2 separate regions of the Homo sapiens genome follow, and region 1 is linked to region 2. The links come from fine-mapping of genetic effects on gene expression. A gene starts in region 2. The other region holds a variant in brackets. All regions are shown on one strand. Distances are between the middles of the regions. Region 1 overlaps NAV1 (neuron navigator 1). Region 2 holds the start of NAV1 (neuron navigator 1).

What was found. PIP is the estimated chance that this variant, and not a neighbour inherited with it, causes the effect.
Region 1: its variant is fine-mapped to the expression of NAV1 in whole blood (INTERVAL, PIP 0.96).

The regions. Positions count from the first base shown.
Region 1 is chr1:201,709,039-201,721,245 of GRCh38, reverse strand. NAV1 (neuron navigator 1) reads right to left here. Exons shown (of 34, transcript NM_001389617.1): 6 at 8,327-8,429; 7 at 2,491-2,856. The region is part of intron 2 of IPO9-AS1 (IPO9 antisense RNA 1); the gene reads left to right. MIR5191 (microRNA 5191) reads right to left here and starts at 1,738; the gene lies at 1,619-1,738. RefSeq lists enhancers at 976-1,622, 7,491-7,785, 7,629-8,317. The variant T/C (reference allele first, on the strand shown) is at 6,153.
Region 2 is chr1:201,531,629-201,543,250 of GRCh38, reverse strand. It overlaps NAV1 (neuron navigator 1), which reads right to left and starts at 4,124. Exons shown (of 34, transcript NM_001389617.1): 1 at 3,909-4,124. It overlaps LOC124904484 (a long non-coding RNA gene), which reads left to right and starts at 3,106. Exons shown (of 2, transcript XR_007066793.1): 1 at 3,106-3,232. CSRP1-AS1 (CSRP1 antisense RNA 1) reads right to left here. Exons shown (of 2, transcript NR_160747.1): 2 at 8,467-9,827.

The DNA of each region.
Region 1 (12,207 bases), 180 kb before region 2:
TCTTGTAAACTAGCATCACAGTTTACAGGAAGGTCCACTTTATGGATATTGCCATGCCAACAATTGATTCTGTGTTCCCCATGCAAACTCCAGGCTTCCCAAGGCTTACAGCTGGGGGCTGTGCAGGGAAGGCAAGTTCTTATTCATGCTAGTCTCGGTGAACTCTAATTTTTAAAAAATGGATTCGGGAACACACATCCTGTCCAGAGGAAGGAGGATAAAGCAAGGGTGTTAGAGGGGGGATAAAGGGGGTCTTTCCTACCCTTTCCCCCTGCATTCCATGCCCCCACAGCCTATTATCTATGCCCCTGGGATTGACCAGCTGCTACTAGATCTGTCTTTGCTGCTGATGCTGAGTAAGTGGGACTCTGGTCAGACTACACACCCCTGACGGTAAGAATCATGTCTCTCCATCAGTCTGGGACTCTAATAACAACAAAAATAATATAGCAACAAAAATAATAGCTATCATTTAGTGAGCATTTACAATGAGCCAGGAATTATTCTAAGTACTTTACATATATTAACCCATTGAATCCTCATCAGAACCCTGAGATAAGTTCTACTGTTATCTGCATTTGACAGATAGACAAATGAAAGAAAGCCTGGGGAGGTGAACCAGTTTGCTCAAGCTCATACAGCTAGTTAAGAGCCGGAAGTCCTGCCACCTTCCTCAGACTGCGACGTCTCCAAGCAGGGCTCCTGTACCTTGCAACACTTGGGGTATTTTCTGCCATGGCCATCAGGTGGGTTGGTGGGGTGAAGGGCTCTCAGAGGGATCTCGTTTCCATCAGTTTGGGAGCTGTGCTGGGCAGGGGCCCCGTCACCTCCATCAATCTGGGAGCTGTGCTGGGCAGGGGTCCTATCACTTCCCCTGTCTGGAAGCTCCCTAGGGTCTAGGGCTATGGTTCTTCTAACACATGGGGGACTTTCTAAAGACTCAGCCCCGCAGGGCTTGTGCCACCCTCTGCACCCTCCTGGGATTCTCAGAGGAGGGCAGTGACCTGACACTTCCTCAGGCAGTCCCTGGCAGCTTCCTAGGGCAGAGGCTGTGTGGAGCAGCTCCTCACACACCTTGGCTCTCCTTCCTGCCCAGCACAGGCCTCTGACCACAGAAGGAGCTCAGGATCTGTGCACTGCATGGCTTTTCTCTGGTCCCAGCTCCAGGCTGGTGGATCTGAGCGTGAGCGCGAGGTTGGGCTGGCCCCTGGGATTTAACAGGCAGTAAACAACTCCATTCATGCGTCAGTTGTTTTGCTCCAGAGCAGCCTCATCAGCTGGACAAGCCCTAACCAGATCCCTCCAAGTTCTCTGCAGGGGTGGAGATGGGGGTGGGGAACAGTGGATGGCCTGGAGCTTGGCTCTCGTCTTTTCCGAGGAGAGGCTACTTTCCACTCCCTTGAAGTCTGGGATTTTTATTGGGGAGAGGCAGGCCCTGGCAGTAAGATATTAAGTCCCTGAGAAGGAAGGGAAGGGATGCTGCTGCTACTTGTATGGCCCCTTGGCGGAGGAGGGCACCAGCAAACCAAGAAGGGAGAGTGAAAGTGGCAGTAGGCTAAGAGGTGCTCCAGAGAAGCTTCCAGAACCACTGCCTCTCTCCTGTCTCTGGGCTTGGAAGAGTTGGCCAGGATCCCCCTAAGCGCCCAGCACTTCATTCTTCCTATCCTCTCTTCTATCCTCCCAGACCAGGAGAGGACAGCAAGAATGAAGTGCTGGGGGCTTGGGGTCCTGGCCAACTCTTCCAAGGTTGGAAGGCATAGGCACAACTCTGTCAATTAAGGCAGAAAAATATAAGAAGATGAGGGTCCCTGCAGGGCAAAAGGCAGGAAAGAAGGATTTGACACGCTGGGTAGGGATTAGGAAGTTGCATGATTGGTAGAAGGTTTGCACAGGAAGAAACCCAAGGAGCAGACACTGAGGACCACAGGGGTCGGATAGGGAACTGAGGGGTTACGAACCCCTGGCAAAGGAAGTGGAGCTACTGCTGCTACTCACTGTTTGACTAGCGATTTCACCCACAAGCTCTCATTTTCTCTTCTTAGGTAGACAGATACGATGTTAATAACCTTTTTGGTTTTTTTTTTTTTTGCAAATGGGAAAGCAGATTTAGTTGTCCAGGGTCTACACAGAGTTCGCATAAGAGCTGGGAATAAAATGCTTTTCCAAGGCTCTTTGAGCCAGTTTATTGAGGGCAAAGAGCCAGGGAGGAGGGTGACAGAATGACAGCCACAGAGACCAATGAGAGGGAGGCGCCTTCATTGACCAATCAGCTCCTTGGATGTAGGCCCTGCCTACACCACACCCAAGTCTAGAATAAACCACATCGAATTTCAGAGGCAATCACAAAGTGTACACAGCACACTTTTGTGTACTTTCATAGCAGCACAGCAAACCAAAACCCGTTTTGGGTTCCACTCCACTTTTAAGGCGTCGCATCCCAGTGGTCTTTCCACCATCCTCCCCCGCCATCCAAGAAGCCCCTGCGCTTACCCGGTAGTGATGTCATCATCCTCCGTCATGGTCTTGCCCATGAGGTCACTGTCGCTCATGTAGCCGGACTTGAGGTCCACCTCATCCGAGTCCAGGGATTCGACCAGCTCCAGGCGGGAGATATGGCTGAGCTTGCTGGGGCTGCGCATGGGCATGGTGTGGGAGTAGTGGGCCCGTTCGCCGTGCATGTACCAGGCGGGCGTCCCCTCCGAGCGGCAGCTCCCACCCACAGAGGGCGCGTCACCAGCCTGCAGCCGCGGACTGGACTGGCCATAGCGCCATGACAGAGGGGACGAGCGGTTGGAGAGGCTGGACACGCTGCGTGGGTTGGCATCATCGCTGTCGTAGCAGGTCATCTCCAGGGAGCTGGGTGGAGAGCAGAAGGCACTACTTAGTCCTTGGCACAGCCGCCGTGTGCCCTGTCCCCTCACATGCACCCCAGCAATGCCTCCCCTCCACCCACAGGCCCTGTCACCTCCTCCCCACCTGCCCAAGCTCCACCTCCTCCATGAGGCCTCTGGTTGTGTGTTACCTTTGTGATACGTTATCTGTTTGACAAAGGAAATGATCTTAATTAAGTGGCTAGGGAAGAAATCCTGTATACTGTTAAGACCCTAGATTGTGTAATATGACCTAGGTTTGAATTCTTTTTTGGTATTGGTTAGTAAAGGAGCCCAAGGAAAGTAAATAACTAAAGCTTCAGTTTCCCCATCTGTACAATGGGGATAATGGCATAACATCTACCTTATAGAGTTGTAAGGATCACATATGTACAGACAGAACACAGTGCCTGGTATATGGAAGGGGTCAACAGACCTGGAGGCAAGTGGGAGAGACTGGTCACTTGAGCTTAGAAGGCCTTGGTCATTTTGTTAATGGTGTGTCCATCACCTCTCTTCTAGTAATTAGCTGAGGGCTAGCTGATTCCCAAACATCATATATAGGAAAGCTGAAGTAGAGTGCAGAGAGTATAGGAAAAGCTTTGGGAATCTGGGATGTATGGCAGGTCCCCAGTAAGACTGGTCCAAGCCACAGGCCTAGGGCAGCAGGGGAAATAAGCCTCCCCAGAGAATAGAAGCAGCCTTAACTGGACAAAGGAGAGGACACAGGGAACCAGACATGGGGGTGAAGCCAAATGTCCAGAGTCTCAAGCCTCAGGCCCTGCTAGACCAGGCCAAGGGAGCAATGCCCAGGTGAGTGCTGGATGGCCTGAGACTAGGGGAACCTGGGGGACTAGGGAAGGAGATAGGGCCAGGCGGGCTGCAGAGAGGAAATACAACTGGAATCTGGTTGAAGGGGTGGCTTGGACTTGGGTTCAGGCTGAGACCCATAATTCCATCTAGCCTAGCAGTGGGGCCAGCCCAAATCAGCCTCAGGCAGGGTCTCCATAACTTATCCTAATTAAGCCAGACAGGACTAAGTAAGCGAAACGGGGTTTGGTGGCCAAGAAAGCTGGGGCAACTGAGGCAATCTGTGGCTGGACATGAGTTACATGAGCCCAAGCAATCACTGCTCTGTGAACACATCCATTGCTTAGCCACTTTGGGGGCTGGAATGGGAGTGGGACATTGATTTTTCCATTCTGGTTTCTATCAAGTTCCTTGAAAAGAAGAAAAATTTCCAAAGTTGTCTCTATTGGACCTGAGAAAATACGGTCTTATTTTCTAACCAGCAGAACTTGAGGGATCCAAACGCTCTTGAAACTGAGTGTGCTGGGGTCCTGGCAGTAGTCCTGTGGGCAAGATGGGGGAGGCCCTGGCCAGTCAGGGCAATCAGTGGCAGCTGCTTCTGGCCCTCTGGAGGGCTTCCTGACCGTGTCCATGCCCAGCGGCTCCCCTCCTGGCCCTGCCAACTCTTTTTACTTATTTACTTATTTTTGAGACAGGGTCTCACTCTGTTGCCTAGGCTGGAGTGTAGTGGTGCAAACACGGCTCACTGCAGCCTTGACCTCCCGAGCTCAAGTGACCCTCCTGCCTCAGCCCCAAAGTAGCAGGGACGACAGGCACACATGAGCACATCTGGCTAATTTTTGTATTTTTTATAGAGATGGGGTTTTGCCATGTTGTCCAGGCTGGTCTTGAACTCCTGAACTCAAGCAATCCTCCCACCTCGGCCTCCCACAGTGCTGGGGTTACTGGCGTGAGCCACTGCACCCTGCTTCTGGCAGCCCTTTAGGAACCCCTTTGTGTTCTGCAGCTCTGCCTCATACAGTGTCTTGTTTCGGCTTCTAATTACTGTGGACCTAGACATCACATCTCCTTGGACAGAAACCGATGTGCCCCGAAGCCAGAGACTGTAGTGATGGTGCGACTTTGTCTGCCTTGCTCACTCACCACGGTATTTCAGCACTTTGCATGGCACCTGGCCTAGAGCTGGTGCTCTAGAATGAATCAAAGAGGAGCAAACCCACGATGGATGTGTGAGTAAAAAGCAAGGAAGTTCTCATCAGAAAACTCAGTCCAGCGCCCTGTGCAGTAAGTGCTTGATAAAAGCAAGCTGACCTTGACCATGGGATGAGACAGGGGAGGAAGAGGATGATGCTAACCATACTAAGAGGGTGGCGGGGATCTCCAGGGAAGCTGGTTTGGGTAGTTAGCCTACACCATGGTTATATACTAGTGTGGGAGTGAGGGCTGCACTCAGCATCTGGGTTCCTCAATTCTATTCCTGGCCTGCCCCTGTTTAGTTATTTGTACTAAAATTGCCTCTTCCCCTATTCCACAGCTCTCTCTTTTTTTTTCAGTTCCCCCAAACACATCTCTAGACATCTCTAGACTTAAGCTTGGTGAGGGGGATTCTAGCTCAGATCCTCAGTTCTTGAATTCCAGCCCTGCACCCACCCTTCAGGCTTGCCTTTCTCTGGGGAGGACACAGTTTCATTTCCTCTCCAGCCACAGTCTGACCCAGACTCTCCTCGCTGGGGGAAATGAACCAGTAGAAATTGAGGAAGCAGCACAGGAGTAAAGGCTTCTGAAAAGGAATGGAATCCAGTTATCCTGGGAGTTCCTGGGTGAAAACAGCCTTGCAGGAAGCACACACTGGACCATAAGCTCCGAGGATGAAGCTTGTGTGTGTTCTGGGGAGCCAGTGCCCAGCGCTGTGCCTGGCACACAGCTGGCATGGGTTCTGAGCATGCAGAGTACAGAACCTACCCTCATCAGCCAGCGTGACTCTGGCAGGTGCCTCCCTGCCCCCAGCCTCATTCTCTAACCCAGGGAGTATGTATATATCCTGTCTACTTCCAGGGCTAAGGGAAGGGCTCATTGATAGAAAGCCCTTTAAAAAGTAAAAGAGCCGGCAGGGCGTGGTGGCTCACACCTGTAATCCCAGCACTTTGGGTGGCCGAAGTGGGTGGATTACCTGAGGTCAGGAGTTCTAGACCAGCCTGGCCAACATGGTGAAACCCCATCTCTACTAAAAATACAAAAATTAGCCGGTGTGGTGGCACGCACCTGTAGTCCCAGCTACTTCAGAGGCTGAGGCAGAAGAATCGCTTGACCTGGGAGACAGAGGTTGCAGTGAGCTGAGATCATGCCAAGGCACTCCAGCCTGGGAGACAGTGAGACTCTGTCTCAAAAAAAAAAAAAAAAGAGCCATAAAAAGTCAGGGAATCATTGTTTTGGCTACCAGTGTGGAACAGGAATAATATAAACCAAAGCCTA[T/C]GAGAGGAAGTGGCTCTAGGTCCACAGTAAACAGAAAAACCAGCTCCGGGGCTCTTGGTTCCTTTCCTATAAAGGGAGGCAGAAGCCAGAGGCCCTAGACGCTCCCCCTAAACCAGTCAGCATTATGCAAAAGGCTTGATTGAAGCCTCCCCTTTCCCACTAGAAGCAGAAAACCAATAGCGCCTGCCTAGGGTCAAGCTGTCCGGCTTAACGGAGGGACTGGGGGCTGGCTGCTCTGAGTCAGTGGCACCAGGAGGCTGGAGCTGCTACTTCTCTCCTACTCCTGTGAGTGAGTCATTTGGGGTGTGGCCCTCTCAGCAACTAAGCACTTTCTGGTGTCTTTGGCATGAGGCTGGTGGGTGACTTGGTGCTGAGAGATGTTCCAACAATTTCCTTGGATGGGGGAAGGCAGATGTCCAAGATTTCATCCGCTGGGTCCTAAACTGATAAGCCAAGCTCTGCCAGATCCCTGCTTCACTTGGGCTCCTGCTGGGGGCTTGGGGCTATGAGGGATGGCAGTAAGGGACAGATGTAAGGGGGTCCTGGAGCCCCCACCATCCACCTTTTTCCAGGACTTCCTTGGTCACCTCCCTTTCAGTAGTCAGGGTTCTGCTGGCCTGAGCAGAGGTAATCCCCAGAGAGTTTTGATTTATCTTACCATTTAAAATACTCGAGATGTCTGGGAGTAAAGGGCTGAGTGTCCAAGATGCGGGCATGGGCTGGGGATAGGGGGAGGAGTAGTACAAGGAAGGAGAAGGAGAAGGGTCATCTAAGCAGGAAGAACTACAGCCAACGGCTGAAAGCTACTTAAGACTAAGTGCAGTTCCACATCAGAGTTGCTGCAATCCCACAATGCACCGGGGTGACTGAAAGGTAGTGAGTTGGCCGGGCGCGGTGGCTCACGCCTGTAATCCCAGCACTTTGGGAGGCCAAGGCGTGTGGATCACTTGAGGCCAGGAGTTTGAGACTGGCCTGGCCAACATGGTGAAACCCCATCTCTACTAAAAATACAAAAATTAGCTGGGCGTGATGGCACACAGCTGTAATCCCAGCTACTCGGGAGGCTGAGGCAGTGGGCGACAGAATGAGACTCGGTCTTTAAAAATAATAACAAAATATTTTTAAAAAGCCTATGTTAAAAATAAAAAAAGAAAGGTAATGAGTTCTTTGTCATTGGTGGTATGTAAATATGTCCATGGGTGTGGTCCCATCCTCAGAATCCCAAATGGCCACACCCTGGGCTAAAGAAAGTCCTTTTCCACTGCCCCTGTGTCCCAACTTTGCTCTTAATTTTCCAGCCCCAGGAGTTGGAGAGGAATCTACTTCCAGTCTAACTGGGGAGGCTTCCTAGCCCTCACACAGCCTTCCTGCCCCACACCCCCCATGATTTCCCAATCTGGCTGTCTGTTCTGCCTCCCGCTGTCCCCAGAGCTTAGCCCAGCCCTCTGCCCCACTTGGAGCTGACAGCATGAGCTCATCTGGGCAGTCCAAGGAGCCAGCAAGGGAAATTCTGAGTCACAGCAGAGCCTGTGGCCAGGACTTTGCTCCAGAGAGAGGTGCCGTGGGAAGGCTGAGTGCCCCATGCAGCTGGAGGCTATGAGGTCTCTGCAGGGAGTGGGCTAGGGGGACACACCTAACAGGGCATGGAGCTGGGTGACACTGTGTGGGCCCTGTTGAGCACTCAAGCCTCCCTCAGTGGCTCGTAGAAGAGGCCAGGGGGCACCTAACTGACACAAGAGTGAAAAGACCCAGGTGTTGAGAAGGGAATTGATTCTAGACCCCTAGTTTAATGGAGACTTAGGAACAGGAAGAGAGCATTTAGTAAACCTTCTCTTGACAGATTGAGGAGACAGAGGTCTAATGAAGGAGACTGACTATCAAAGATCACACATTGAGCTGTGTAATGGCTTCCACTTCCTGGCTCCTAAGCTAGTGATTTTCAAGCTGATTTGCTGAAATGAAATGAAATGTTCAGGCACAAGCAGACAGAAGACAAAGCCAAGCTTCTCTTGTTGAGATAAATGGATTTCCTCCTCCTTCTGCAGTGGCTCCACGCATCAGGCCACCTGGCTGACCTGGCAGAGGTGTGGAGGGACCCGGGGGCCCTGCCCTCCAGAATGGGGTGGAGAGCCAGGAAGGCAGAGGGCATGACCCTCTCTGCAGCTCGAGCTTACCTGTGAGTCACCTGGGACCCTCGCAGGCTGGACATGGTCTCTTCCAGGTTCTGCCGGAGATCCAGGACATTCTGCACTGTCCTCTTTCTCTGGGACTCTGGGTCTGGTAGGGAGAGAAGGAAGAGCTGGGTGAGTGAAGAGAACTTAATGCTGGGATCCTGGGGGTCAGGAAGTGGAGATTGACAGTGTCCCCAGGAGGCTAGTCCCTGGGCCATGATAGTCACCTTCCTCCTCCCTTTCCCAAAGACAACCAACAGAATGGGCCCTCTCAAAGGCCCTGGACATGTGCCATTGAGCCCTCTGAACCCCAGATCCTGGCAGGGGGTACAGGCATGGCTTTCTGTGTCTGTGCACTCCTTTCAGAGCCCCCAAGGAACTGCCTCTACCTCTGGCTTTGTTTTGGGGAGGCCCTGCTTCTCATAGCAGAGGTCCTGGGCAAGATTTCTCGTGGTTGAGATGAGCTGGAACATCTGCCTGAAACCCCCTATCCAGGGTTGTGCTGGTAAATGTTTAACAACTGGCTTTCGGAGGAAGGGGACACCGATGTGTGGTGTTTGCCAATTTCCCTGGTATAAAGCCTCCTATCATGGCCACTTTCAATCTACCAATCTGATGTCACTGACCACAGAGTTAGGAAGAGGGGCTAACAATTGGCTCTGGGGAACTGGTACAAGCTGGCTTCAGTACACCTAAACCCAGGCACTGACTGGTAATATCTGGGGTTGCTCTATGGGGTCCCAGGAAGTTAGTTCAGATATAGTCTCCTAAAGGTGAGGTGGCTGGTGGGAGGTGGAAGGGATGAGCAGTCATTTTCTGGAGCTTGAAGTGAGCTCTGGGCAGTCCCCACACAAGTGGTGCAATCCTGAGTGAGAAGGATGCATGGGTGTGGCCCAATCCTCAGAATCCCAAATCACCAAGAGCCATTGTATTCAACCCTGGTGTCCAGATATTAGCCTGGACGGATGAGAATCTACAACAGCAAACAGGGTGAAAATAACGTCCAAATGACTGAGAGGTGCTTGAGCATGAAGGAACTCAAAGAATGTTCTTCCTTCCTTCAGTTCATCCAATGAATCTTTATCAAGCACTTACTTCACATCAGGCACCACCCTGGGCCCTAAGGACAGTATAATGAAGAGAAGCTGGCCCTGCCCCATGGCTTATCTTTCATTTTGGAACCTAAAGTCATGAATGGAACCAAGTCCCCCAGTACCTCCCTAAAAGACAATCTGCAGGAGAGAGTCAGGGAGTGACAGAAAGATGATGGCAAAACAACAGAGAAAACCCAAGAACTCTGGCTCTCCAGGCTGCTCCCTTTTCCCCTCCATCCGCAAGCCTTCTGCCGCTGCTGCAGAGGCCAAACGCCCCCTCAGTCCCTCCTCAGCCCACAGACTCAGCAGGAGTGTAAGGTTTTTTTTAGCTGCCAAAGGGAACATTTCTGAATCTCTTCAAGAGGTTTTTATTCCCCCAAGACTAAGCTCAGGCCGGCTGGCAGGCAGCTGCTTGACTGTCTTGTCAGGGAGGGGAGGCTGGGTGGGGCGGGCAGGGAGCCTGCAATGCCCTCTCCAGAGCCTTTTGGGCACCTTTTCTGAGAACCAGCTCCACACCCAAGCCCAGCCATCCCTCCTTTCCCCTCCCAGGGGGAGCTTCTCCACCCCCACATCCTCTCATGGTCAGCACCATGAATCCAGGCCTCCATGCTGGTGGCAAGGATCAGGGACAAATGGCAGGCCACCATGCCAGTGGCCTAAGCTCTATCCCCAGTCCTGGCATCACTTCCGTGGCCGCCAATGCCTATTTATCCTGGCAAGTGTCACCTTGTAAGCTGCTCCATGGCTTTAATTGATGGCTTGGCATGAAACACAGACAGGGTCAATTTTTTAGACTCGCCAAGAAATAAAGTTGAATTCTAAAATGCCTATGTGGGGACTAAGAACATGGTGCCAAGGTGTGGGTTTCTGGCCCAGGGTGATGCTTTTTATGGGCTTGGCAGACATGAGGGACAGGCACACACATCTCCAAGGGGTGTGTATTCCCAAAGAGGAAGGTGATCAAGAGTTACTCAGAGACTTCTGTGTGTGCCAGACCCTTTGCATGCATTATCTACTTGAATCCTTGCAACATTTCTGGGAGATTTGTGCTACTGCCCCATTTAACAGATGAGAAAACTGACACTCAGAGAGAACAAGTAAACTGCCCAAGGTCACACACCTAGCATGTAGCACAAGGCAGAGTTGAGCCCAGGAAGAAACTCATACTTGTCTTGATATATCACAGGGCATCTCTGCACCACTAGCATCAAGCATGGTGACTGTTGTATAGGAGGCGCTTAGGCTGCAAGCAGTGGCTCATGCCTATAATCCCAGCACTGTGGGAGACCGAGGCCAGAGGATCGCTTCAGGCCAGGAGTTTGAGACCAGCCTGGGCAACACAGGGAGATCCTGTCTATATAAAAAATAAAAATAAAAAAATTGGCCAGGTGGCTCAAGCCTGTAATACTAGCTACTTGGGAGGCTGAGGCAGGAAGATCACTTGAGCCCAAGAGTTCAATGCTGTAATGAACTATGATCACACCACTATACTCTAGCCTGGGCAACAGAGTGAGACCCTGTTTCAAAAAAAAAAACAAAGAAGATGCTTAGTGAACATTTCAAGAATGGATGCTACCACAATTTTTTAAAATTTCCAAAAACCCATGAAAAAAAGTAAAGGGATACATACATGTCACGTTAGGAAAATGTCTTTTTTTTTTTTTTTTAAGGAAAAATGTTTAAACCACACAGTAGCCTCAGGAGAGTCATGCTGCATTCCCTAATGCCCCAGATGCTCCAGATGGGAGTCATAGACATCTAGGTCACAGGTTTGACCCTCTTTCTCCATATCTCTTCCCTCAAAGACCTCTATCCTAGCCCCTTCCTCAATTCCACATCAGCAGAGTGTGGTGGGACTATTTCAGAGTCTCCCAGAGTCGCCAAACCACAAGAGTCCTTGAAAGTCACTTAATCCTGCTGTGTCTCTGGAGAGCTGGGAGGCTGAGGTCCAGGAAGTAGGGACTAGCTGGAGATCACAGAGATGCGAATGGAAGAACACTTGACTCCAGGCAGCTTCCCCACAGGTATAGATTTGGGGCATACAGGGGAGGAGGTTAGGGCAGGGTTTGGTTTCCTTGGGGGTGACCAGGATCTGGTCTCTGCTACCAGGCTGGAGGGGCCCTGCAGAGGCTACACCCTGCAGCTCCCTCTGTGCCCCAGCAGTGGCCCCTGGTGGCCATCATGGGTATGCCGCTCTGCTTCTCCAAGGCTCAGCCCAGGGTGGGTCTGGAGGGTTGGGGCCCCTGGTAAGTCTGGCTTCCTCCACATTGCTAGGTGACAGACACATTCCCGGGGTGGTACAGCCACAGCTTCAGGCCAAGAGGACTTACCTGTGTACAAAAGAAAGGCCTCCAGAGCTCCAGAGGCTGCAGAGGGGGCCTAGGTTGAGGAGCCAATCTGACATTCACACCCATGACCCTGAAGGTGAATTTTTATATTTTAGCTTAAAAATATGAGTAAGTTACATTTCCAAGGGAATTTACTTCACCTCTCAACCCTCATCCATTCCTGATCTTCACCTTACCCCACCTCTGACCACCAACCCATAACTAAGCTTCACCCCTTTCTCACCATCTCCTGTGAGGGTGAGCATCCCGGATGGGGTGAAGGTATCTAGGGCTTCCGCTACTCTGTGATAATGAGAAAAGTAACCTAAAAGTTCAATGGTTTTTTTTTTTTTTTTGGAGACAGGGTCTTACTCTGTCTCCTGGGATGGAGTGGCATGATCACGCCTCACTGCAGGCTCAACTTCCCTGGTTTTGAGCGATTCTCCCACCTTAGCCTCCTGAG
Region 2 (11,622 bases):
CACGCTCACTGGTGAAAGGCTAAAATCAAGAAATCCCCCTAAGATCAAGAACAAGAGAAGGATGTCTGCTTTCACCACTGCCACTCAACATTATACTGAAAGTTCTAGCCAGAGCAATTAGGCAAGAAAAATAAATAAAAATCATTCAAATTGGAAAGAAAGACGTAAAACTATTTCTATTCACAGTTGACATGATCCTATGTATAGAAAATCCCAAAGAATCCAGAAACAAAAAAGCTACTAGAGCTAATAAATTCAGCAAAATTGCAAGGGACAAGATCAACACACAAAAATCAGCTGTGTTTCTACACACCAGTAATACACAAGCCAAAAAGGAAATTAAGAAACAATTCCATTTATGAAAGCTTTCAGAGCATCTGAGGATTGGATATCAGAACAGTCTTGCAGTCTTTTGAAGTGGAATCATCTTGTTAGTAACGGTCCTTGGCAGAGGCACATGCATCAGAGCCTTTAATTTTATATGCATATTAGTGCATCTCATATTAAAATTAAGTAGAGCAAATAGATTTGATGGGGTGGTAGTGTGAACTGCACAGGACATGTGTAAGAACCTGAACCACATCCACAGGCAGGTCAGAGTGGCCTGGGTCTCAGCCATCCTGCCTCGCTTCACGTCTCAAGAGTCACAGGATGCTGGGAAGCAAAATCGCAGGCCTCTCGGAGGAAATCAGGCCTGAGTCAGCCTTCCCAGGAGGTTAAGGGAACAGATGAGGCCCAGGAAACGGTTTACTGTGGAGGGTGTTTTTCGCTAGACTAGTTGGAGGGGTATTTTTAAGTTGAAGAAGGAACTAAAAGTGTTTTTAATTATTATTTTTTGTGTGTGACTAGGGGCCAGAAAGACGAAGTGTTTGCCAAGTATTGCCACATTTCTTAGCTCTCCATGTTCCAGAGACTCGAAAAGTTGATAGATGCTTCCATCACAGAGATAGCTGTCTTGACCCTAATATGTTTCTGTTCCTCTCTCTAGCTAAGAGGTAAGTAACATCTGCTGAGATGGAAACGCTAGGAAGATAAAAATTCCCAGTGATTTGCTGAAAGGGAATGAGCCCTAAACTGAAAGCCAGGAGCCCTGCATTCTAGGCGGGCTTCTGCAGTACCCCAGTTGTGTAGCTCTGAGCCCATCCCTTCCCTTCAGTGGGCCTTGATTCTTGCCTGTAAAGGGGAGAAGAGCAGGGGTTGGGAGGAGTGGAGATCCTTTTAACTTTGACATTCTGGTTTTTCTTAAAGGCCAAACCCTTCAAGAAGTCAAAAGAACTTTAAAAGAAGAGGGAAGTGACACTGATTGGAAATAGGAAGGCAAAAATAGAGACAAATTGTAAAAGATGGATAGGAGATTTTTCTATTCTAGGCCACTCCTTTCTACTGGGCCCAAACTGAGTTGATACCAGAGGTTCACAGGGACTCAGGAGGGGGCTAGATTAGGCAAGAAAGGAAAAACAGCACTCCTTTAAAAAAAAGATGGAGTTTCACTCTTGGCCCCCAGGCTGGAGTGCAATGGCATGATCTCGGCTTACTGCAACCTCTGCCTCCCGGGTTCAAGCAATTCTCCTGTCTCAGCCTCACGAGTAGCTGGGATTACAGGCACCTGCCACCACACCCGGCTAATTTTCATATTTCTAGTTGAGACAGGGTTTCACCACGTTGTCCAGGCTGGTCTCGAACTCCTGACCTCAGGTGATCCGCCCCTCTTACGGGCATGAGCCACCGCACCTGGCCAAAACAGCATTCTTGTTTTCAGTTTCCCCAGGCCAAGGTTTATCAAAGAAGCCAGATCCCAGAAAAAGCCCAAATATTCAAAGCTTGCCTACTTACCCATGGGCAAATCAACATTTTTATGAACTGCTTTTGAGGGAAAAAGAAGTAGAGGGGGTCTGGGGGAGCAAATTAACTCCCAAAGAATGAATAAATGGCACTTAAATGAGATAGGAGGCCTTTGAATGCTACTTAGTTTTTCTCCCCAATTCTATTAGTTTGGCAAGCATCTATAAAGTGCCTACTGTGTGCTGAGTGTTGTGGGTGGTCAGATAGGGTGTTTGGCTGGAAGGTACTCACAGGAAGATAGGCATGTGCACAAACACCCAAATATCTAAAATACAAAGCATGGCACACTGACAATCAACAAAAACAAAAAATGCAAAGCAGAATGTGAGACCTGCCCCAAGGGAAATCAGATAAACTGCTGAAGAAGTTCAGATCAGGGGCTGTTCTCTTTCACCCGGAAATGGTGTTCTCTTTCACCTGGTGTTCTCTTTCACCTGGAAAGTTCAGGAAATAGACCCTAGGGGCTGGAGCCCAAATCTGAAAAACCTTCTTTATTCTTCCAACCGTAGCGATTTTTTCCTGGCTCCACTTTACAGAAGTGAAAACCAGGACAGAGACATGAGGAATTATTTGCTCTCTGATCATCCAGGTGGTTAGCAACACAGCCAGATAGAGAACTACAAACTGATGATTGAAAACTTCCCCTAAAAACTGATGGTGAAAGCACATACTACTAGGAAGCTCATCTTAGAAGACAAAATCCATAGAGCTGTTCCCTCTGTCTCCCTTCTTAGGTCAATCCCAAAGACACACCAACAAAAAGTCAAAGCAGGATTTAAAAAAATGTCATAAGCAAGCTGGAATCATATATATCTCTGGCCTAAAGGAAGCCAAGGTCTCTGCAGTGTCAGATCGTCAGATCCTCCTCCTGGGGAGGCCATTCTTTTTGCGAAGTCTCCAGTCCCATTACAAGTGAGTTGCCGGGGACTTCATGTAGGGGGAACAAGAGCTAGCCCACAGATGAAAACCCAGGCAAGCCCTCTGCTTTTGCACAGTGAACGAACGTGCCCACAGGCTTCTCAGCATTGAATTTGAACGAGCCAATGGTATCCCAATCATTGAAACAGGAAGCCAGATAAACAGCATGTTATCAAGGGGGGATCCAGCTCTTCCCTTAAGCCGGCGCCAGCTGCGCCCTGTGACTATCCTAACAAAGTCCCATTGACTCACCAGCTGATTTTCCTGTGTTCGGCTCCAGGGGACAAGGAACCCTCTCTGCCGGGTGGACGTCACCCCTACACACCGCCCCCGCCACCCGCCACTCGCGTCCTCTCCAGTTCCTGCCTCCCCTCTGCCCGCTGCAAACTTAGCTGCTTCTTTATCCTATGACCAGTTTTTATCGGCTCTGGGGATTAGCAGGGACCAGAGCCCAAGCCTCGGGAGCGCTCAGGTGAGCTCCCCGTGATCACCCAATTTCTGCGTTCTCCTCTCTCCCCTCTCCTCCGGGACCACTTTCTCCGCTCCCAGACGCACTGGGCGGGCGCCAGAGAGGACGGCCTCCGGGAGATTGGCGGGAGGGCGCTTCCCGGCGCATCCCGGGGGTGCGGGGAACGTTTTCTGGAACGGCCCGCGAGGTCACCTGCCCCAGCTGTTCCTCTGGCTCCTGCTGGGATGGGAGGAGTTAACTCTTGCTTCAACGAAAGGCAGAGGTGCGGGTAGGGTGTGTGCTTGCCGTGTGGGTGCGAGTATAAGAACGCAGCACCTGGTGTCTCATGATAAGATCTCAACGCACTTTAAATTGTGGGTATTTCACAACAAGGAAACTGAGGCTCAGAGGGACTGAAGTTAGGCAGCCCCCCCGGAGAGTCAACTCTAGAATCAAACGCGCAGTCAGTCCCATAGGGGTCGAAAGGGCACACACCTTCCCGGGAAGCCGCGAGCATCTTGGTTGTTATTTATTCCAGCGCCTCTCCCGAGCCCAGCCCACAGCCTCCCTCGGGCACCAACCTCCCCTACCCCGAGACTTGGTCTCGGCCTCGCAGGACCTGCCAGCCAAGCCTCGCAAAACGGGAAGCGCCAGACCCTCAGCGCCGCGACCGCGCGACCGCCCCGCGCCGGCCACTCACCGGAGCGCCTGCCCGCCCGGGCTCCGGGTCCGCGCCGCAGCCGCGCAGAGTCGCGCATCCCCAAGGGCAGCGCGGGTGCGGGGTCCGCTTCTCGCGAGCACAAAGTTTCCCGGGGCTCCCCAGGCCGCCTCGGCCCCTCGCACCAGGCTTGGCGTCCGCCGCGCACTCCAGCCTCGGGCCCCGCACTAGGGCAGCCGCCGGCCCCGGCCCCACAATGAGGAGGGAGGCGGCATCCTGAACAAAGTGCCGTCCCCTCGGGAACGGCGGCCGGGGCGGAGCCTCGTGACCCGCTGCCCCAGGCACACGCCGGCTGCCTCCACGGCGGGCCCAGGAGGGGAGTGCCTGGCGGCCGGGGGGCGGGCAGGAGGAGAGAATCCGTCCGATCGCCCTGGCTTTCCTCCCCCTGCACTGTGCCAGTTTAACCCGCAGAGGGGCGGAGGCATGGGTCCCTTCCAGACTTTGTCATTGGAAAGCTATTCCCGTAACCCTTTGCTGCCTTCGCCTTCCCGTCCCGCCTCCCAGGCTGGCCGCAGAAAGGCGGCTGCTCGGTGGCGGACCCGCGAGCTGGCAGGGCAGGAAGCCTTTGCACAATTGAGCCTTTCCTTTGCCCGGGGACCCGCCACCGCCACTTCCAGGCCGGGTTTCCTCCCTCCCCCACATGTCGTCCGGGTACCGCTCGCTGGTTCAGCCGCAGTTCTTTAGGAGAAGGGGACAGATGGATGGGCCAGCCTCTCCACCCGACTTCTGACCCCGGGCACCCACCTCCTTTCTTTCTCCACCCCACTGAACTGTCATGCTGTCTGAGCTGTCTTAGAGGAGGGGGAGGCCCCGCAAGTGCCCCGCAAATAGTAGGTGCTCAGTAAAATAAGTGACTTCTCCCCACCTTCCAGACAGCCGATGCCCCTCCTCCTTCTTCCAGGGACTTGGGAGTGGGAGGAGGGGGAAGAAGAGGAGAGAGGAAATGACAGGACCTGAGGAGAGTGAATGGGAGGAAGGCCCTCAGCCAGAACCTACTGCAGAAGCAGTGCAAGCCCCCTGCCTCCTGGCTTGGGGACTTCCAGGGTCTGCAGGAAGAAGGCAGAAGGAAGCCAGATGACCTGAGCTTTGAAGCAGGCTTTGGAAAGGGAGTAGCTGTGGCCAAGGACCCAGCAGATTCCCCTGCTCCTGCCAACAAATAAGAGGACTGATCTATTCCCAGGGCCATGGGGTTGCAAGTTGGAGGACTGATGGATAGAAAGCAAAACTGCCTACTCCCTGGGAGGTCTCACAGCTCTTTGCCAGCAAAATCAGTGTGAGCAGAGTCAGGATGAGAGCCCTTGAGTCCTCCCTGAACGCCCCACACAGTCAGTAAGGCCACAGTGGCTTTGAATTTGGAGAGATGAGACACCAGACAATGGACAAGCAGTGACATTCAAGAAGTTCCCAACTGATCAGGGAAAAAGATTTGTTGTATGATTTTTGTCCATGAAGGGAGTGAACTGCCTTTTGGCGCGGGATAAGGGGGTGGACTGCAGAGTGACACCCTTACCCTCTGTATAAAGACTAGAAGTGTGGGCTCTTAAGGCAGACTGCATGAGTTCAAATCCTGGATCAATGATTTTTTAGCCATGGGAACTTACTGAACTCTTTAACCTCTAGCTACCTCAGTTTCTTTATCTGTAAAATGGGATAATAATGGTTCCTATCTCCTAAGAGTGTTGGGAGGATTAAATGCGATACTATAGGTGACACACTTAGAATAGTGCTTGGCACATAGTAAATGCTCAGTGAACATTAGCTGTTACTTTGATCTTGGAGTAACTAACTCTTGGAGATCTAACTCTTGGAGATCTAACTCTTGGAGATGTAACTCTGCGCCCAGTTTGGCATTCAATGATGTGCTAGCTAGAATCCTTTTGTGCTCTTCCCAGTCCTGCAAAGGGGAGCCTAGTCCTTTAAGAAGAAGCACTGTCCTTTCTTGAGAGCTCAAAAGGTGGGACCCCAGGGACCAAGGACCACACAGTAGGTATGCAAATGACTATCAGAAGGTGAAATGACTCCTTGACCCATTGTGAGGCTGGATGCATAGCCCCCATCCACATTGGTAATGCTGGGATGATGTCATTCCTTGGGTGCTACCCAGAATGGAAAAGAAAGCCAAAGCTATAATTTCGTAAGGGTTAGATCTCTTCTATCAGTACACAGGATCAATATTTCTCTCCCACTTATGAGTGGCTGCTCATACAAGTTCTCCCTCACCCTGCTCCTAATGTCCCAATCAATATGGGTGACGGGATCATTTGTACCCCAAGCCTCAGCATCACACAATATACCCAGGTAACAAGCCTGCATATGTACCCCCTGAATCTAAAATAAAAATTCAGAAAAATGTCCCACTCACAGATTTCCAACAGTGAACCTGTATGTGTAGGCAAACATAATAGCATATGGACAGGTTGAGGGAGGAAGGAGTAAAGGGGCCAGTCTGGTTGGGGTGACAGGCAGAGGATATGAAAGCTACTGAAAGAGAAAGTGGATAGGACAGAGCGGCAGGGAGGAGAAGCCAGAAGAGACTCTGGACAGAGCACTGTTTGGGTAAGAAACAGGGTCCCGCCCATCCCAGAAGTGGCCTCTGCCAAATGCCTACTTTGTGAGTAGTTTTTGTCTGAACACAGTGATGACTCAGTTGCTCTGAGTCTAGCAAATGGATTTTCCTTAAATATGAAAATCAATAAGAGGTAAAGGCAAGGACCTCGCTGTGGGGAGGGGAGGATGGAGAGAGTGGGAGAGGTGCTGGGGCGTGAAATGATTTGTGAGTGATGGAAGGAGGGAGATTCAGGTTCACTGCAGGAGACCCTTGGCATAGTCACCTGTACCCCCACTCCCCACCGAGAAGGTGGCCTCCAGGACCTGCTGGCCTCACTGAGGCTCCTTAAAACCCAACAGCCCCTCTGTTCCCCTCCTCCACAGCTTAGAGCCAATCCTGCTTTGGGACAAGATGGGTAGCGAAAGGATTAATGTCAACCTGACAAATAAGTTTTAAAAAATCAGCCCAGAAGCTTGCTGTCACTCCCATAGAGTATCAGATCCGGCCTCCGACGAGATGAGAGTTTTGGGAACCCCAGGAAGTATGGCAAGTGACATTTTCAGCCCCAGCCTGATTTCTTTGGGGGCTTTGCCTGTTTTCCTGCCGCCTTGAGGTCTGTGGACCAATGCTAATTTGTTTCTTGGGTTATCTGACATGGGACTTTGAGGATTTGAACACACTCACAGCTCCTGCGTTCCACGTGGCCCACAGGGAGACTGTCTTTATCCTTCGGACTGTCTTGTTTGGGGCTCCCAGAGCAGTTTGTAAGGTCCTTGGCAGGAATATGAAGATAGCACATTGCTTTATTTTCTTGAGCACTTAATAAGCGTCACTGGAGCTTCTAAGGAGGAGTCCGAGGCAGCTTCTGACTTCCTCCTCTGAAGCACAGTGGAAAAACACTGGGCCCAGCTTCAGAAGACCTGACTCCATGCCTTGGTTCTGATGCTGGCTGAAGTGCATCACCTCAGTTTGCTCATCAGTAAAAGGGAGTGTTGACACCCAGAGGACAAGAATACCCACCTACCAAGGGCATGGTGAGTATTCAGTGAGATCATGGAGGAGAAAATGGTTTCTGCAGTGCTGCTCACATATAAGCAGAAGTGGGATTATCAAACAGAAAGCATCAGCTCATATTCCCAACCCCGCCCCACCTCCCCACCCCAGTCAAATTCACTGTGGTTATGGGCTCAGTGCTTGAAAACCCATTTTTCAGTGATAGAAATCTGACTGGCCACTAAAAATCCTTGTCCTTTCTAGCTTGATTCATTAACCAGTGAGGGGTTTCCTAGGCTAGTGGAATGGGGTTGGACATGGGCAAAACAGGCATCTCCATCCTTGGCCACTCGGGCCTCATGACTGGCCCTGGGCCCCCTTTAAGAAGGGCCCTCTGTGTTGACTGTTGGAGCTTACAGGGACCTGGGAGAAAGAGTCCATGGGGAAAAGCTGTCAGAGTAATGAATGTTTTACGAGAGTGAGCGAGTCACTGCCTTATCGGGAAGATGCTGTTTCTCACTCTCTCTCTGTTACCAGGAAGTGAGATGTACTGAAAGCCATCGTGGTGTTTTTCCAAAGATGGCCTTTGAAGAGGAGGTGTTTCTTTAAGGGGCCCAGGAGAATAGGGGTTGGGTTTGCAGGGAGAAAACCTGCCCCTTTAAGAAGCCTGGTTCTGGCTGTGGCAATCCTGTGGTATGGAAGATAATAATAGTCCCTACTTATATAGCATTTGCTGTGTGCCAACTGCTATGCTAAGCATTTAACATATATTAACCCATTTAATCTCCACAACAACCCTATGAAATCTGTACCACTTTTTATCTCCACTTTACAGGTAAAGAAATTGAGGTCAAGTGTCTTGTCTGGGTCTCAGCTAGTAAGTGATAGAGGTAGGATTTGAACTGAAGGAGTCTGGCTCCTGAGTCCATGTTTTCAAATACTACATATATGCAGAGGAAAGGAGTCTTGATAGTCTCCATAGCAGTGTGGAGAGCTTGATCATGTACTAGTTCAGCACATTTCTTTATTTCTTTTCAACAGCTTTATTGAGGTACAATTTACATATTATAAAATTCACCCACTCGAAATATACAACTCTAAATCTACAGAGTTCTGCAGCCATGACCAGAACCAAGTTTTAGAACATTTCCACCACCCCAAAAAGCTACCTTGTTCCCCATGCATGTTTTAAACTGAGTCTCAATTTTCTCAACTGTAAAATGGGAATAACAGTGCCTGCCTCATACGGTTGTTATGAGCATTAAATCAACATGTAAATGGCATAAGGTAATGGTCAACAAATGTTATCTATTATTATTACAGTCTCTTAGAGTCACTTAAATACAGACTTTTAGAGCTGGAAGTGGGAATGGTCTTAAAGACAATCTAATCAAACTCTCTCCTTTAACAGATAAAGAGATAACAGTGCCAAGATGTTAAGCAACTTGCCAATTAAGGACACAGTAAATTTAGTGGCAGAGCTGGGAATGAAACCCGGGTTTCTTGGTTGGTACTTCAGTCCTCTCTTATCTCCTGAGAGACTTTCCACTCGAGGCACAGGAATATCATTGTCCAATACCCCCTTCACCCCCCATCTTTGCCATCTTTGTGGGTGCCTCCAGAGCAATGCTGACTGGCAGGCATGGACCCTGGGACTTTGCTTGTGCTGGAATACATAGAGCTCTGGCTTTGGAGCAGGGAATGTGGCTGAGGAATGTTGGGTGCAGAATCAGGGGACCAGATCCAATGTGGAGGCTGAGACAGGAATGTCCATTGTCAGAACACGGAATGCATTAACTAAAAGAATCCAGGACACAGCCAGTCCAACGGTCAGCTAGTCTCTGCAGAGCCAGCTTCATGGGCATATGACCTGTGCAGTCACACGGGGGCTCAAGCTTAGAAAGGCCCCCTGCTTGGTTTAATGCTTTGTTGTTGCCATCTTGAAATTCACAATGATTTTTAACAAGAAATGTCACATTTTTATTTTGCACTGGATCTTGTAAATTATGTAGCTGGTTTTGCCCATGTGATAGCAGAGCTGCAGCCAGACTCTTAAGGCCCTAGCAAGGAATAGTGTCTCTCCACCCAGAACTTACTCACATGTAAACTCTATGTATAATACACAGTCATAGAGTCTTAATACCGAGCATTAGAAGAATCAAAGCCTGGGCAACATATGGAGAACCTGTCTCTACAAAAAATTTTATTAAAATATTAGCCAGACATGGTGGCACATGCCTGTTGTCTCAACTACTCAGGAGGCTGAGATAGGAGGATGGCTTGAGCCTGGGAGGTGGAGGGCGCAGTGAGCCATGATTGTGCCATTGCACTCCAGCCTGGGCAACAAAGTGAGACCCTGTCTGAAAACAAACAGAGAATAAAAGTTGTGAAACAATTTGCACATTATGATCCAATTTATGATGAAAGATGCCCCATTAAAGTATATCTTTCTATATGTACATATGCTTGTATGAAAGTATATTTTTTTAAGGTCTGGAAAAACACTTCAAACTGGCAGTCATCAAGGGAGTCATTAACTTTTTCTGTGTGTTTGAGTTTGTTTTTTACAAGGAGAATCTATTCATGTATTACATACATAATTATTAAAAAAGTGTAAGATACTCCTAATACATTCTGTAAGCATTTTCCTATATCAATAAATAGTCAGTAAATAGTCTTAAAATGCCAAGAAAAGGTGTCTTGAGAGGGGAAAGCAGAAGTAGGTGTCAAGAGGGACCCTGGAGAGTGGTAGACAGGGGCAAAGACTATTTCAGGCCATGACAGGGCCTGAGGGGAACAGGCTTGGATGTGAGGAAGGGAATACCGGGTGGGGGAACCCAGAGGTAGCTGGTGAGAGGGTGGGTGCTAGGTGTCAGCTCCGTTCAGATTTAGAGGCTGCGATGTCCACTTTGGTGAGGGTAGGGGAGGATGATAGGAGCTGGAAAAGGATGAATTGCCAAATACGACTGGAGGTAAAGGCTGTAGAGGTGAATCCAGCTGTGGTGAGAAATGGATGAGGTGGAGGTAGGCAGGTGATTCCCTGCAAGGGAGAAAGAATGGGGCTCAGATGTTGGATTTAACAGAGAATGGGAGATTTGAGGCAGTGTGGCCCAGTGGTCAGAGTGCAAGCTTTGGAGTCAGGACGGCAATCAAATCCCAGATTCACTGCATCCTAACTGTGTAACCTTGAATTCTCCTCTGGGAAACAGAAATGATCTTGATAATAGCTATGCAGTAGGGTTGCTGGGAAGATTTGATAAGATGATGGAGGTAAAGCATTGCATCCAGTGGCTGGCACAGACCCCCAAATCTTCCCCTTTTCTCTTTAATTGATTTTGTGGTTTGAGGCTCTTAAATGGCAAGAAATCATTTGCATGAATAAAGAGCCATTCTTCCAAGCACTTCCCTCCTAGTTTTCTGGGAGAGCCACTGGAAGCCAGGATTCAGAGTTCCATCCTGCAAAAGCTGAGCTGAGCTAGCCAGGAAGGAGGAGGAGCTGACTGTGGCCCAAGGGCTGGGAAGCAAGGCAGAAGGGGAGAATCCAGCCCTAATTCCCACGCTGCTGGTGCCAGTGAGGCTGACTGTGGGAAAACCTTGTCAGGGGTCACACTTTGGGATCTCTAGGAGCAAGGTGCTCTGTGAATGCTTATCTCAGATTCTCTCCACCCCTGGCCCTTTCAGTGCCCCCAGCCCAACTCCGGGGAGAGTATGAGTGACTGACAGGCCCTGCTGCAGCTGCAGCCTCCTCACTGTGGGTACAGATGTGCTCAGCAGCAGCTGTGACACGGAGCCCACACCTGTTCCCTAGATCAGCTGCTGTAACTGTACTCCTGGGAAAGCAGGCCAGGTGCTCAGGCCTTGCCAAAGCCAGGTCAGAAAGCAGGTGGAAAGTCGGGCATCTGCCTGTCATAGCAGCGGTGGAGGCTGCCTGGAAGGTCATGAGGCCCTGGGAGTCTCAGCTACAGACTGGGCTCCTCTTCCAGCCCACGCTTGTCCCCAGCTGTACGCCTCCCACAGGCCCTCTGTGGTTTCCTGACCCCCTCCCTGGGCACCACCACATTGGGGTGGGAGAGACTGAGGAGCTAGGAAGGAGGCGGGGAGTCTTGAATGGGATGCCTCTGGCCATCTGTTATTCTGGGCCTGTAAGCTGTAAAG